Regions from separate parts of the Homo sapiens genome. Here region 2 is linked to region 1. The links come from fine-mapping of genetic effects on gene expression. Tissue or cell type: whole blood. Region 1 holds a variant in brackets; the other region holds the start of a gene. All regions are shown on one strand. Distances are between the middles of the regions.

What was found. PIP is the estimated chance that this variant, and not a neighbour inherited with it, causes the effect.
Region 2: MINPP1 starts here. The variant in region 1 is fine-mapped to the expression of MINPP1 in whole blood (INTERVAL, PIP 0.99).

Annotation. Positions count from the first base shown.
Region 1 is chr10:87,534,301-87,538,639 of GRCh38, forward strand. The region is part of intron 4 of MINPP1 (multiple inositol-polyphosphate phosphatase 1); the gene reads left to right. Among named protein-coding and RNA genes, the nearest start is that of MINPP1, 32 kb to the left of the region's middle. RefSeq lists a silencer at 2,940-2,989. The variant C/T (reference allele first, on the strand shown) is at 2,113.
Region 2 is chr10:87,502,573-87,506,572 of GRCh38, forward strand. It overlaps MINPP1 (multiple inositol-polyphosphate phosphatase 1), which reads left to right and starts at 2,321. Exons shown (of 5, transcript NM_004897.5): 1 at 2,321-2,980. The coding sequence starts at 2,344. It overlaps MIR4678 (microRNA 4678), which reads left to right and starts at 1,309; the gene lies at 1,309-1,382. LOC112268064 (a long non-coding RNA gene) reads right to left here and starts at 2,262. Exons shown (of 2, transcript XR_002957094.2): 1 at 1,763-2,262. RefSeq lists enhancers at 2,291-2,380, 2,541-2,600.

The DNA of each region.
Region 1 (4,339 bases):
TGCCTTGGCCTCCCACAGTGCTGGGATTACAGGATTACAGGGGTGAGCCACAGTGCCCGGCCACATACTGGCTAAATATTAATAAGTAAAAGTTTATATAACTAGCCTGGCTGTACTCTGAATTCATATTCAAATGTCCAGCTGCCTTTTGAATAGACACTTTTTGACTATCACTAGATTGTAGGTCTACTAAGTAGTTATTCATTATTTCTGCACAATTATTTTACCTTTGTACATTTTTTTTTAAAACTATTCTTGTTGAATTGTATCCAGTTTTGTAAGAATCACTCTTAAATCTGTTGTCATATCTATTCTTGTCATAGTTGGAGAGTATACCTACTCTGTGCTGACCCCAACAGTAGAACCGGAAGGCAAATCTTGTTTCAGTTACTATTTTAAAAAAAGAAACCTCACACACACAAAACCCCACAACTTTTTAATAACTGTTAAATAAGTAGAATAGGCTGTTTTGTGAAGTAGTAAGTGTCCTATTTTAGAAATATGCTAGTTGAATCTGGATAACTGTGTCAGAGATTCTATGGAAGAAATGCTTCTACCACCTAAGAGGTTAGGAAATTATTTCATGGCTCCATAACTAAAGGCTCAGTTCATTTCAATTCAGCAAGCAGTTTTTGAGCACATACAATGTGTGGTCACAATGCTAGGCATTGGGAATACATAAACATGGATAAGAAGTTATACCCGCTACATCCAAGGGGCTCTCAGTCTAGTAAGGAAGATGTCTTAAGAAAGTAATTTAGTCAAAAGCGAAAGGATGCTTGGGAAAGTAAGTCATCTCTGCAGTTCATGGTAGTTGGAAATGGCTTCTGTGTGGATGTAAGATGTAAGGTGAGCCTTAATCATTGACACTGTAGTGTAATGGAATTTGCATTGGCATAGGATTATTAAAACTCAAATCCTTGTTCAGCGTTTCCTAACCAAAATTTTGTCATCTTTAAAATTCAGGTAATACTCATGTTTCAAGGTGTTGAGAAGGTTGAGTGGAGTTCTGTGTTCATGTATGTCTGTGTACCACACAAATACATGTAAAGACACATTTATCTTTTACTACTATGCTTTACACAATTAAGTATTTTATTAATTGTTATTAATACCATCATGACAATCATTCCAGGCAAAATTTGGCTAGAGAAGAATAAGGAAGACATCAAGGAAGAAGAGTATTGAGCAAAGGCCTATGTGGGAATGAAAATGTAAAATGCCCAAGTTAATTTGATGGTTTGAGTTAGACAGTGTTGGGAAATAAGCTGTTAGGGTGTTATCTATGCCAGAGAAAAACAGTATACTTTACCTGTCATCTAGATGCTGATTTAAAAATTTTCCTGGCCTGGCGTGGTGGCTCAGACCTGTAATCCCAGCACTTTGGGAGGCCAAGGCAGGAGGATCGCTTGAGCCCAGGAGTTTGAGACCAGCGTGGGCAACAGGGGTAATCCCTACCTCTACAAAAGAAAAAAAAAATTAGCCAGGCGTGGTGGCATGTGCCTGTAGTCCCAGCTACTCACGAGGCTGAGGTGGGAGGATCACCTGAGCCAGGGAGCTCGAGTCTAGGGTGAGCCGTGATCATGCCACTGTACTCCAGCTTGGGCAACAGAGCAAGACCCTGTCTCTAAATAAATAAATAAATAAATTAAGATTGTTCCTATTTCTGCTTTAGTTATTTGTGTTAATTTTAAATAAGTTCCATGTATTCTGAGGTTTACACTTAAACATCTCTCTCCTTAATTAGAACATAGACAAGTAAAGTCTATTGTTATTTTTCAAGAATATTTGGACAAATCTATTGAAATAAATATACAGCGTTTTCCAGGTTATCTTTGATAACCCACTATGTTCAGGTTATTTGGCTGGCAACAGAGGGTATATACAAAGATGAATGCATTGAAATTGTCTCCAAACTCAAAGTTTAGAGAACACTTATAATAGCACTAAAACAGATAAAAACAAAATTACTGAGAGAGAATTAATTTGAACTCTTTGGGGTTTGGTAAAGGCTTTATGAGGAGTCTTTGAAGTAGGCTACCAAAGACTTTTCTTTCACTAATCTCAGCATATCAGCTCTTAGTAATTGTTTTGATGTGTTTTTTAATAACT[C/T]GATTGAGGTATAATTCATGTAAACTGTACATATTTAAAGTGTACAATTTGGTCAGTTTTTACATATATATATACGCCCATGAAACCATCACCATAATCAAGATAAAATATCCATCACATCCAAGTTTCTTTGTGACCCTTTCTAATTCACTTTCTACCCCCATTTTCAGGTAACACTGATACACTTTCTGTCACTATACATTAAGTTGTATTTTCTAGGATTTTATATAATGGAATCATAGTGAATTTTTTTTTGTTGGGCTTCTTTCACTCAACATAGTGATTGTAAGATTCATCTGTGTTGCTGATGAATCTAATAGTTCATTCCTTTTTAAGACCAAGTAGTATTCTGTTACATAGATCCACCACCATTTGTTCACCTTTTGATGAACATTTGGTTATTCACAGTTTTAAGGCTATTGCAAATAATGCTTCTGAATATTTGTGATCTTTGTATGTTATGATTTGATTTCTTGGGAACCTACCTAATTAGATGGAATGGTTGAGTCTTAAGTAGGTGTATTTTTCACTTTTTTTTTTTTGAGACAGAGTCTTACTCTGTTGGCCAGGCTAGAGTGCAGCGGCACGATCTTGGCTCACTTCAGCCTCTGTCTCGTGGGCTCAAGCAGTTCTCCTGGCTCAGCCTCCCAAGAAGCTGGGATTACAGGCATGTGCCACCACGCCCAGATAATTTTTGTATTTTTAGTAGAGATGGGGTTTCATCATGTTGGCCAGACTGGTCTCGAACTCCTGACCTCAGATAATCCACCCACCTCAGCCTCCCAAAGTGCTGGGATTACAGGCATGAGCCACCGTGCCCGGCCGTCTTTTTCACTTTTTAAGAAACTGCCAAACTTTTCCCACCAATGTATGAGAGTTTCAGTTGTTCCACATCCTGCCAACGCTTCATATGGCAGGTCTTTTTAATTTTAACCATTCTAATGGGTGTGTAGTAGTACTTTGTTGTGGTTTTAGTTTGCATTTTCATAATGATTAGTGATACTGAGCATCTTTTCATGTGCTTATTTACATCTATATATCTAGTTTGGTGAAGTCTTTATTTTGTGTGCTTTTTAATTGGGTTATCTTTATTACTGTTTGTGTGTGTGTGTGTGTGTGTGTGTGTGTGTGTGTGTGTTGTCTAGGTACAAGTCCTTTGTCAGATTTATGCTCTATAGGAATATATTCTCTTAGTCTATGGTTTGCCTTTCTTAAAAAATATATATATATTAATGGACTGATTTTGCCCCATTATTGAGGCATTTCACCCTGAGTATTTATATGTACCCTGTGTATTTTGAGGTTTTCCCACTCTGGCTTATGTGAAAACTATTCTGTTTTTTTGTGTTAGCTTTGGGAATTTTTTTTCTTTTTTTAGACGGGGTCTCACTCTGTTACCCAGGCCAGAGAACAGTGGTGCGATCATAGCTCACTACAGCCTCAACCTCCCAGGCTCAGGCAATCCTCCCACCTCAGCTTCCCAAGTAGCTGCGACTACATGCATATACCACCATGCCTGGCTAATCCTTAAAAAATTTTTAATACATGGAACTTATTTTTATTTATTTATTTATTTTTATTTTTTTCTCACTGTGTTGCCCAGGCTGGTCTCCTGGTGGGCTCAAGCAGTCCTTCCCCTCTGCTTCTGGAGTCACTGGGATTATAGATAGGAGTAATCTGTAATTAGCTCTGCTAATTTTTTTTTTTTTTTTACCTATTCCTTTTCAATGTTTTTTCTCCGGGATTTGGATAGTTTTCTCATACGCATGTGCTGTTCAGTGCCAGCTGAAAATTTGAGGGAGCCCCTGCTGGTCTGCAGCACTCTCTTCTCAGGTACTCCTGCTGTGAATTCAGCCAGTGTGGCCTCCCTAAATTCTCACTCCCATCTCAGCTGCTCAGGGCGACTTCCCGAGCTGTTTGGGCATCCCCTCCCTGTGCCATAGTCTGGAAACTCGGCAGTAAGCTGGGGCAGTTGTTGGAGTCACCTCCTTTGCCTTCCTTTTCTTATAACTATTGTTGAGTGTCTGAAACTTTGTATGTTTTGTTCAGCTTTCTGGTACTTTAAGGTAGGACAGTAAATCTGGTCCCTATTACTCCGTCTTGACTGGAAGTGGAAACTGTTTCAGTGTATTTTTGCTTGAGGAAGAAAAATGTCATACTTGAGTCATTTTAGTTCTTGATTTATGTTAAGCTGTTGGATTGGTGCTTCTCCAAATACTCACTGGAA
Region 2 (4,000 bases), 32 kb before region 1:
CTGTGACCTTTTTAAATTTTTTCAAAGGCTGCTTAGTGCTCTAAGAACAAGATATCCATTTTAAGTGAAATGAGTGGATTTTTATTATTAGAAAAGTTATGAAATGATCTTTGATGCATGTGTTGCCTGTGAAAGTCATTCACTTTAATGTTCAGTGGGAGTAAGTGTAATCCATGTAATTGCTAGAAAGCTAGGCATCTTAGCACAGGAATAATCACACTGAACATTAGTAATGATAAAAATATCATTTATAGCGGCCTATCATATGGATTTTAAATACATCATCTCTGTCATGATAATCCCATGATATAGGTTCTAATATTACCAATTTTCAGATAAAAAAAAAAAACTAAGGCCCAGAGAACTTGGGTCACTCAATTAATAAGCAGCAGAGCTAATTAGAGTCTGGGTCCAAAGCTTAAGCACTCTTCGTCTTCTTTATATTTGGCTTTTTCCTAGCCAAAAACATGGAGGCATTGCTTACTTTTACTTTATCATTGTTATCTTGGCATAACATCAAAATAATTAGGAGCTGATATACCTAAGTGTATAAAACAGGATAAAATTAATTGATGAGGAATTAGATAAGGAAAATAAAATCAAACTAGGGGCAAATTTCATGTATAAAAATGTGTACTGTGCCATACATTTTGTAAGTGGAGTCTCTAAAGATTGCTTCATAAGGAAGAAGTGAATAATGACTTTGGGAACACTTGGTAACCCCTAGGACTCAAAAGATTGGGTGTGAGAAGTTATTAGTAAGCATATGTATTAGGCAAAATACAGTGAGATGAACCTGGAACAAATGCTCGCTGAATGCACTTAGAAATATTATCAGGCGACTCAGCCTATAGAGCATACGGGTTAGAATGTCTATTTTAAGAAGGAGCGGATATTTACTAAATGCTAATTTGAGCAAAGTTCTACAAAAATATCACTGACCATGAATATTCAGGCATTGACATGCTACAAAATAGCATATCGAAAAGAACATCTGTTGCCCTAAAGATGGTTTCCTGCACAGAACGTCTCCAAATTTTCAGCATTCATAGGCTGGCCCCGTTTCTTCTTGGTTAACATTTAGAGGCACGCCTAAACTTAGAGGAACACCTCTCTAAACCAAGGAGACACTTAAAGAGAAAAGGAGTAAAGATGGTGATGGGCTTATAAAGAGCAATGTAATAGTGTCTTTGAAGCAAAAGCTAACTTAATGAAAACGTGGTCCCAATTTCCTTAAATCTGGATCACCGTACGACTTCTGTAATACTTATTATTTCCCCAGCTGGCAAATAAACTGGAGTTCAAGTGGGAAAAAACAAGGTATTGTTCAGACTTATGATTTTTGGGGTCAAAGATTCTGAGCAATAACCTATTAAAAAACCCAGCTTTTGATTTGAGTATGTAAGTAAGTACATGGGAGGAACGTATGGATCTGGAGTGGTGGTAAATACAGAGCATGTTTGCTTCGCAAAGCAGATTAGCTCATACTTAATAATAGAGTAAATCTGTTGGGCCATGACTCAATGCACCCAAATTCTCTAGATTGCTATGTCTCTACTCGCTAAGCCTTCGGGAACAACAAGCACAGAACTTTTAGGGTGCTGTCTCACTGATGTCGGCGTTAGCTCTGGTAGTCCAGGTCAAGATTATACCAAAGATTCAGGACTTAAATTCCTGCAGAATGTAAGCCCCTTTCCAAGTTCTCTGCTTTACTGTATCCTGTTTATTTTCAAACTCAAATGGAAAAAAACGAAACAAAAACCTTGGGCTTCAAGAGGCATCCTGCCGCAAGGCCCAGCGATGTGAATTTTCAACAACCGTCTCAGGCAGATTTCATGCTGATGGTTCAGGCACTAAACTTTGAAAAACACAGTATCACAGAGTAGGGATGGTGATGTAAGAGTCATCTGTAAAAGCTGTGCTGTTTTGGCAGCCTGGGAGGCTAAGGTTTAGTCTAGGCGACTAAGGTTTAGTCCGGGCTGTATTCACACCCAAAACAACTAAAAAAGCGGAGGAGTCTTTGAGTCAATCCCTGAAGCTCCGGCTAAGAGGAAACTCGCCCACGCTCCAGGGCAGCGACGCCGGCTCCACCTCAGCCACGGCTGTCTCAAGCTTCTCGGGGTTTTCCGCCGGCTCCACCCGAGCCACAAGTCTACAGGACTCCTCGGAGCTTTCCGCCGGGACGCAAGACCCACCGCCAGAGGTTGGTACCTCCTAGAGAACAGCGAAGCGCATCCCGAGGGCCGCCGGCCGGAAGCGCCCTCCAGACCCGCCCCCTGCCCTCCGGAGCCGGAAGCTGGGCATCTGCAGCTGGCTCGGCGCACTCCACTGACCGTCCCGACGATGCTACGCGCGCCCGGCTGCCTCCTCCGGACCTCCGTAGCGCCTGCCGCGGCCCTGGCTGCGGCGCTGCTCTCGTCGCTTGCGCGCTGCTCTCTTCTAGAGCCGAGGGACCCGGTGGCCTCGTCGCTCAGCCCCTATTTCGGCACCAAGACTCGCTACGAGGATGTCAACCCCGTGCTATTGTCGGGCCCCGAGGCTCCGTGGCGGGACCCTGAGCTGCTGGAGGGGACCTGCACCCCGGTGCAGCTGGTCGCCCTCATTCGCCACGGCACCCGCTACCCCACGGTCAAACAGATCCGCAAGCTGAGGCAGCTGCACGGGTTGCTGCAGGCCCGCGGGTCCAGGGATGGCGGGGCTAGTAGTACCGGCAGCCGCGACCTGGGTGCAGCGCTGGCCGACTGGCCTTTGTGGTACGCGGACTGGATGGACGGGCAGCTAGTAGAGAAGGGACGGCAGGATATGCGACAGCTGGCGCTGCGTCTGGCCTCGCTCTTCCCGGCCCTTTTCAGCCGTGAGAACTACGGCCGCCTGCGGCTCATCACCAGTTCCAAGCACCGCTGCATGGATAGCAGCGCCGCCTTCCTGCAGGGGCTGTGGCAGCACTACCACCCTGGCTTGCCGCCGCCGGACGTCGCAGGTGACCCCCCGGGCGGCCCGTGTGCTGTCCCGGTCCTCCCACCCGCCCTGGATGCTCTCCCGCCTCCCCCAGACCCTGGGCTTTTCCGATGCCCCCCAGTTCTCTTTCCTCTTTTCCCAAGCCATCATCCCTCGGGCTACGTCCTCCCTGTCGAGGGATATTACAGACTTGGCTATCTCTTTTTCCCCTTACACGTATGTTCATTTATTAATTCATCAGGTGTAAATTCAGCACCTTGTACTCGCTGCCTGCTTTAGTAGAGTTGGGGATCCAACAGGAAAGGGGACAGACGAGGTCTCCCGCAATTTTTGCGCTCCCGTTCCCAAACTGAATTGCCCCTTCGAGCGCCAACCCATCCCTTCCCCCTTCCCTGGCGTCTAGTTTCACAATTGGGCGCACGTTTTAAAAAACAGAATCTAGAATTTTCTTCCTCGGGCTTTGCTTCCGATACTAGTTTTTCCTTCTTTCTTTTTTTTTTTTTTTAAACTCATCATCTTTTTCAGATGACAGTTTTAGACCTACACCCTGTTTTAGGAACCTGATCTCAAGCCTTTGTGTCCTCCTTTTTTCTTCTGTTTTGTTCATGTTTTTACTGTAGCGTTCCCATCGTTGTAGCTGTGGTCCGTGGTCACAAGCAGTAACAACTCATTTATTCCATTAATTACACTTTTTCGAAATTTGAGAAATCATCTAGTAAGGCCCCGTTATTTCACAGGTGAAGAACCCGAGCCCAAGAGTATGCCTTCTTAATTGTCTTTCTCTAAGGTCTAGTATCCAAGTCTTCTGTTTTCCTAGAATGGTTCTTTTTCTCTTAGAAAATGTTGTAATAGTTACAAATAATAATGATAGCATACACCTCATGCCTATTGTATGCCAGGTATGCCTCACATTTATTTTACAAAATCCTTACAACCACAATCTGGAGTTGATAGTATTTTCCCCTTATCTCAAAGATGAGGAAATTGATACACGAACACATTAAATAATTTGCCCATTTTCATACAGCTAGCTGTGGACCCA